2 separate regions of the Homo sapiens genome follow, and region 2 is reported to be linked to region 1. The links are microRNA targets in miRTarBase. Many come from high-throughput screens and were not tested one by one. Region 1 holds a microRNA gene; the other region holds the end of a gene's coding sequence.

What was found. The annotated mature microRNA hsa-miR-4779 reads UAGGAGGGAAUAGUAAAAGCAG and lies in region 1 at 1,324-1,345, opposite strand. An mRNA with a match to its seed (bases 2 to 7 or 8) in the 3' UTR can be bound and repressed. Matches are read on the target gene's strand: a 7mer-m8 pairs with bases 2 to 8, a 7mer-A1 pairs with bases 2 to 7 and ends in A, and an 8mer does both.
Region 2: the mRNA of CAMTA2 is a reported target of hsa-miR-4779. Seed matches in the 3' UTR shown: 7mer-m8 at 2,556-2,562, 7mer-m8 at 2,516-2,522 and 7mer-m8 at 2,378-2,384.

The regions. Positions count from the first base shown.
Region 1 is chr2:86,191,714-86,195,110 of GRCh38, forward strand. It overlaps MIR4779 (microRNA 4779), which reads right to left and starts at 1,395; the gene lies at 1,313-1,395. The region is part of intron 1 of IMMT (inner membrane mitochondrial protein); the gene reads right to left. RefSeq lists an enhancer at 3,250-3,299.
Region 2 is chr17:4,966,060-4,969,456 of GRCh38, forward strand. CAMTA2 (calmodulin binding transcription activator 2) reads right to left here. Exons shown (of 23, transcript NM_015099.4): 21 at 3,091-3,278; 22 at 2,848-2,922; 23 at 1,938-2,760. The coding sequence ends at 2,697. It overlaps SPAG7 (sperm associated antigen 7), which reads right to left and starts at 1,758. Exons shown (of 7, transcript NM_004890.3): 1 at 1,661-1,758. The coding sequence starts at 1,745. LOC124900387 (a long non-coding RNA gene) reads right to left here and starts at 1,654. Exons shown (of 2, transcript XR_007065587.1): 1 at 342-1,654; 2 at 1-260. RefSeq lists enhancers at 803-1,480, 1,394-1,893, 1,481-2,157, 2,158-2,835, 2,803-3,397 and 2 more and a silencer at 1,904-1,983.

The sequences.
Region 1 (3,397 bases):
TAACACGGTGAAACCCCGTCTCTACTAAAAATACAAAAAAAAAAAAAAAAAAAAAATTAGGCGTGGTGGCAGGCGCCTGTAGTCCCAGCTACTTGGGAGGCTGAGGCAGGAGAATGGCATGAACCCGGGAGGCGGAGCTTGCAGTGTGCTGAAATGGCGCCACTGCACTCCAGCCTGGGTGACAGAGCAAGACTCCATCTCAAAAAAAATTAATAAATAAATAATAAATCTTCCTAGGCTGGGCACTATGGCTCACGCCTGTAATCCCAGCACTTTGGGGAGGAGAAGGTGGGGATATTGCTTGAGCCCAGAAGTTCAAAATGAGCTGGAACAACATTGCGAGATCCCATCTCTACTAAAAGTCCAAAACATTGGCTGGGCATGGTGGCATAAGCCTGTAGTCCCAGCTACTCAGGAGGTGAGGTGGGAGGATCGCTTAAGCCCAGGAGATTGAGACTGCAATGAGTTATGATCACACTGCTGTACTCCAGCCTGGGCAACAGAATGAGACCCTATCTCTACACACACACACACACCCTTATTGTTTCTGTTTCTCTGGAGAATCTGAATATATAATCAGAGGTTTGAAAATCTATGGGATGTTTAAAGGGAGGTCACATCCACTTACACAGATTAAGAAAAATTCCACTTTGGGAGGCCGAGGTGGGCATATCACTTGAGCCCAGAAGCTGAAGACCAGCCTGGGAAACATAATGAGACCCCATCTCTAAAAAATCTTTTTAAATTAAAAAAAAATTCATGAACACATTCATTCTTTCATTTATATATGTCATAAACATTCACTGAGCATCTACTTGGAGCCAGGGACTATTGTTAATACTGGAAATACAGCAGTAAATATGGACACAGTTCCATTGTGGAGCTTACTTTTTAAAGGTGGAAACTGTGTAATAAATACACATTATAACATCAGGTAGTGCTAGGAGCTACAAAGTATAACAAAGTAGGATGGGGTAAAGATATAGTGATACAAGGAAGGCAAGAGTAGTCAGAATTCTATTTTGGATCAGGATGCCCTCTCTGAAGGGAAGGTGACATTTGAGAAATTAACTGAAGGGAATAAGTTAAGCAAACCTGTGAGAAGAGTTCAGGGCAAAAGAAACACCTGATGAAAAGGCAGTGAGGCACATGCTGGAGATTACCAGGAGAATCTGAGTGAGGCAGTAGAAAAATGAAATATGAGAAGAGTCAGATCAAGGGCCCATGGTAAGCAGTTTAGATTTTATTTTGAATGTGATGCGATGTCTCCAAAGAGCATGACCTCATGTTTGCCTTTTAAAAAGCCTTTTACTAAATGTCTTACTGCTTTTACTATTCCCTCCTAGAGTAAAGAATGGACTCTAGGAGGGAACAGTAAAAGCAGTAAGACATTTAAGAAGATGGGGTTGGCTGGGCACGGTGGCTCGTGCCTATATTCCCAGCATTTTGGGAGGCAGAAGTGGGAGGATCATTTGAGCCCAGGAGTTCGAGACCAGCCTGGCCAACACAGAGAGACTCCGTCTCTACAAAAATTTTTTAAAAAATTAGCCAGGGATGGTGGCACATGCCTGTGGTCCCAGCTACTCAGGAGGCTGAGGTAAGAGGATTGCTTGCGCTCAGGAGGTCAAGGCTGCAGTGAGCCATGACTGTGCCACTGCACTCCAGCCTGGGTGACAAAGTGAGACTCCGTATCCAAAAAAAAAAAAAGAAAGATGGGGTTTAATAAAGTGGAAAGGATCTTGACAAGTGAGATATTCTGGATACGTTGATACAATCAAATACGACGAGGCTAGAGAGTCACCTGCTTGGGGATTAAAGTTCTGAGAGTTGATGTAATCTCAAATTAGAGAGTCTATAAAGAGACAGGAAGAGATGAGAAGGTGTATATTTCGAGGTACAAAGCAGAAGCAGACTCAGTAAAGGAAAACAAGAGAGATGGGACCCAAAATATTACTTGAGAGAAGCCAAAAGTACAAAGAGCCTCATAAAGCAGCAATGTCAAATGCTACAGAATTAAGGAGATGGTGAGAATAAACCAAAGAATTTTACAAGACAGCAATTTCAAGAAGCTTAGACATCTTGATTCAGAGCTATAAAAGGGTTCATTTTTTATTACCAAGTTTTAATTAGTTTTCTTAATTCCCAAATGGGATCCCAAAAAGTTGACTCTGAATTAACTGAAAAGGAGGTCATCCAGGTGGGCCTGGTCTAATCACATAAGCCTTTTAAATCTGGGTCTAGAGAGGAAAGACCAAAGTAAAAGAAATTTGGAAGTCAGAGAGGCAAGCTCCTGGTAGCCTGCACGAAAGCAAACATCAATGTTATGAATGGCCTCTAGAGGCCTTGAGGCAAGGAACTGTAGGCAGGCTGTAGAAGCTGGGAGCAGTGGCTGGCAAGAGGCAGCAAGAAAAGAAGTACTTCAGTCCTGTAACTGCAAGGGACTGAATTCTGCCAACAAACTGCATGAGCCTGGAAGAGGACCCTGATCTCCAAATGAGAACCACAGCATGGCTAATACTTTGCAGCCTTATGTGACCTGGAGCGGAGAACACAGATCATCCGTGCCCAGACTTCTATCCTACAGAACCCGTAAGGTCATTCATGGGTGTTGTTTTAAGCTGCTAAATTTGTGGTATTTGTTACGCAGCAATAGAAAACTAACACAGGTTCGTTCCACTTTCCTATGGAAGGGGCTGCTTCTGTTACCTAGCAGCAAATAGGAAGAGAAGCGAACTTGAAAAAACAAAGCTTGACTTTTATGATCTCTAACTCACTATTCCTAGGGATTCTGTTCAATTACTGCTTGAGTCACAGTACTTGGTTTGCTATCTACATTTTGCCAAAATATCAACTTCCTGAAAATCATGAGCAGTGGAAACAGGCTTTTTAATTTTCAATTTTAGAAAGTAACTTTGGCAATTACGCAAAACTAGAAGTAACTGGGTATTTAGGCTCCTTGAATGTCAAAGTAGTCCCAGCGCCTGGAGACACAGATCCCTGCCCTAATCTCAGAAATGAGCCACAAGGTCATGACTCCTGTCTTTCCTTGAAGACCAGGAGTTTCAGCTCCACAAATGAAAATCTTTCGCTTTTGTTTGGATTAAGAATAACTCAGAAGTGTTCTCAGCTGCGAAAAGAAAGGCACTCCCTCCCAGATAATTACAACCTTGACCCCTAAAATGTGGACTCTCGCTAGAAGTCCAGGCACCTCCTTATTAAGGATGCAACAAGCCGCCGCTCCGCTCGTCCTGACGGGAACTGTAGTTCTCGCCCGTCGACCTTCAGCACTGAAAACCTATCGCGCGCCCAACCGGCGACCCAGACGCCAGCAGCCAGGATTGGTCCTGGACGGGGGCAGCGCGGCCCTGATTGGACTACATGCCCACGAAGCCGCGCC
Region 2 (3,397 bases), not on the chromosome of region 1:
CCAGGATGCTCTCGATCTCTTGATCTCGTGATCTGCCCGCCTTGGCCTCCCAAAGTTTTGGGATTACAGGCGTGAGCCCGGCCAATTTTTGTATTTTTTGTAGAGATGGGGTTTCTCCATGTTGCCCAGACTGGTCTTGAACTCCTGGGCTCAAGCGATCCGTCCGCCGCGGCCTCCCAAAGTGGTGGTATTAAAGGTGTGAGCTACAAGGCCGGGCCCCACTGACTGTTCTTTAACTGGTTTTCGAGTCTTCTCTGCATCTAGAGAAGTGGCACAAGATTATGGTCAAGAACATAGGCTTCGAGCCCAGTCATACCTGGGTTTGAAACCCTGCCACTTACCAAACTAACCATGTGACCTCAGGCGAGTGACTCATTTAAGCTTCCCAGTCTGTCAATGCCGGGTGATCCCCCACTTAGACAGTCATCGGAGCATTAGAGAATTCCAGTTCCCCATTCCCATCATGCTTCCTCCTTTCTCAGAGATTTCAAATAGACTCTTCTGCCTGTAACGCTTTGCTTCTCTCTCTCATTTACGGAATTACCTGTTCTGATCTCGGCTCACTGCAGATTGGGGGAGAACCTCAGGTGGCCGCTCTCACAGTTATTTTTCTCTCAGAGCACTTATCAAGTTGGTTATTAAACTTACGTGTGATCACTGCATCAATGAGCGCCCCAGCCCCGGACTGTGGCCTCCCTGAGGGGTACCCCTGGTCCCTAACGGTTGTTCAAGAAACAAGGGGACGAAGCGTAGGCAACCAGCGGCCCTTGAATACTTGGAAGGCGTCCTGCCTGCTCTGGTCCCCCTGGGGCACGTGGGGAGCTGGGACAGGGCTCGTCCGTGGTCAAGGTCCGCAGGTTTGGGAGTTGGGGTCCTGCGTTCCGCCAGTATCATCCCAAGCTGCAACACGAGCAGCCCCGGGGAGGCTCCCACCGCCCTGCAGGGCCGCGCCCTACGCCGGCCGCCGAACTCCAGCCCACCCGCAGGGAAGCTACTCCGAGAACGCAGGCGGAGACAGTGGCCAATCGGACCCGGCGGGTATTCTCATCCCTCCAATCAACACTACGATCCGCCCGGGCAGCTCGGGAATTTAAGGCTACGGATGGGAAAAAGGTTGTCGGAGGGAGGCAGAAGGGACTGGGTTAAATTAAGCAGGAGGGGCAAGAACACACAGAGGACCCTGCAACCAATGGGAATTCGCAGGCTGGGGTGGTTTCGAAGGAAGGTCGAACAGGCCTGAGGAGGCAGAGCTTTAAGTTGAGATAGCCAATAGAGATGAAGGCACAGTAGATGGCGTGTCCTAAATCCAATCGAAATAGAGCTAGAGGTGAGCGGGGCAGGAATGCGGCAGGTTGGAGGCACCCTACCAATCAGACCAGGTCAGCAGCGGACAGGCGGGACGGCCGGCTAATGGGAAACAAGGACTGCGGAAGGCCAGGGTCGGGAGAAGAGGCAGGAGGCTGGCGCTATCTTTCAGGTAGCCAATCACTGTCCGCTAAGAACAGCGGGCGTGTCAGCAGCCCTTTTAGGGACTCTGAGGGTCTCGGAAGGGGCCTGTGAGGGGTCTTTCAAGGTTGAGGAGGCGGCATCGTCCAAAGAGGGAGAAGTATGGTCCCGAGAACCGGGCGAAGGAAGGCGGTTGTGAATTTGGGATCCTCACCTCGGGCCTTGCGCCGAGTCTCCTGGTCACCGAGGCTGGGTGGCTTCTCCATGGAGCTCAGGATGGAGCCCAGTAGGTCCGCCATCTTGGGAGTGACTGAGAGGGGGCGGTGCGTCTTAAAGGGAAGGGCGGAATGCCTTTAAGGCCGGAAACACGTCGGAGGCGGAAAACCCTGGGCCCGCCTGGCCTGGGCGCAGATCCCAGGCCCGCGGTGCATGGCGGCCTCCAGCTGGCCTAGGCCCCGCCCCGCCCCCGCAGACAGAGGCCGGAGGCTGGCTGGTGCAGCGATGTTTAATGGCAATTCGTATAAACCAAGCCCATGCACAAGTAGAAAGTGCCCGTGGAGCCGGCAGGAGGCCCCCGCCGCGCTAGAGAACCACAAGCCCGGCCGTGCAGCCCTCCCCGCGGCGCCTTAAATAGATTCTTCACTATACTCTGTATGTTACAGTATGTACAAGACCCCTCCCCTCGGGGGACGGGGCGGACTCCGCAACGCGTTCCTATGTACACCACCTCCCCTTCGGCCCTGAGGTCAGTGGCCAGAGTCGGGTGATGGGGTAAGACAGGGCCAGAGAGGGAGGAAACAGACGCAAACATGCGGAGTCGGGTGGGGACACGGTCAGCCCTGAAACACGAGGGGCGTGCGCAGCGAAGGCAGTGGTGGGAACCGAGGCGGATACATTCAGAGACGCGTCGAACAAATAAATAAGGCAAGTCAGGAGGGGGCCGAGTCGGGTGCAGGCAGGAGGAGCTGGGGAGCAGGGGCAGGCAGGGCTCCGGAGGTCACAGCGGAAGATGCAGGTATGTGGGGCGCGGGTTTTCTGGAGCCAGGACCAAAAGAGACGGGGCACGACCAGGAGGGACGAGGAGAGGGGTGTGGGAGCAAGGCGTGGGGAGGAGGGAGGAGGCCTACAGAGGGCTCCAACAAAGGTGAACAGGAAAGCTGCCGACAGGGGCTCCCCCTGCCCCAGAAAGCCCTCTCCCTGTTAAGACTGCACGAGGCGCCCCCAGGGTGGTGAGAAAGGCGGTGGCCAGGTCATGTGGCCAGTCCCGGCTGGGGAAGCCCTTCCAGCTCCTGGTTCTGCTTCAGTTCCCTCATCCTGCAGAGAGAAAGATAGGAGTCAGAGGAGACTGGCGGATCACGACGGGTGGCAACGCAAAAGCCCAGGGGGAGAAGGGATGAGTACCTGTGTCGGCAGCGCCGCAGGAATCTCATGATCTTCCGGGCTGCCTGGTCCTGCTTCTTGGTGAGAAAGGAGCCTCTGGTGAAAGAAACAAAAGATGGACCTCACAGAAGGCATCGCATGCCTTCGGCCCCCCCAGGAACCCTAGGCAGGGAATGGCAGTGAGGCATGATGATCAAGAGGATGAGTAAGGGGGAATGGCGTGGATGCAGTGGGTGGGCACAGAGGGCTGGGGCTGGGCCCTACTTGTTGCGGGCAGGCAGGGTGGCCGAAGTCCGGTGGGGAGGGCCGGGCCTGCGGCGGTAGGAGCGGTAGTGCTGCTGGATGAGCACAGCCGCTCGGCGGCTCTGCTGAAATCGCTTCTGTTCATAGTAGCTTCGGAACTTGCTCTGGATCAGGATGGCCGCCTGGGTCATCTTCTTATAGAGTGCAAACTGCAGGGGTGGGGAGGAGGGACAGGGGCTGAAATAGAGGGACGGAGACCCAAAGCCCTGAGGCTCACCCAAGTTAGGCTGATGCAAGACTCTCTGTAACCCACACACTCAAGGAAAGA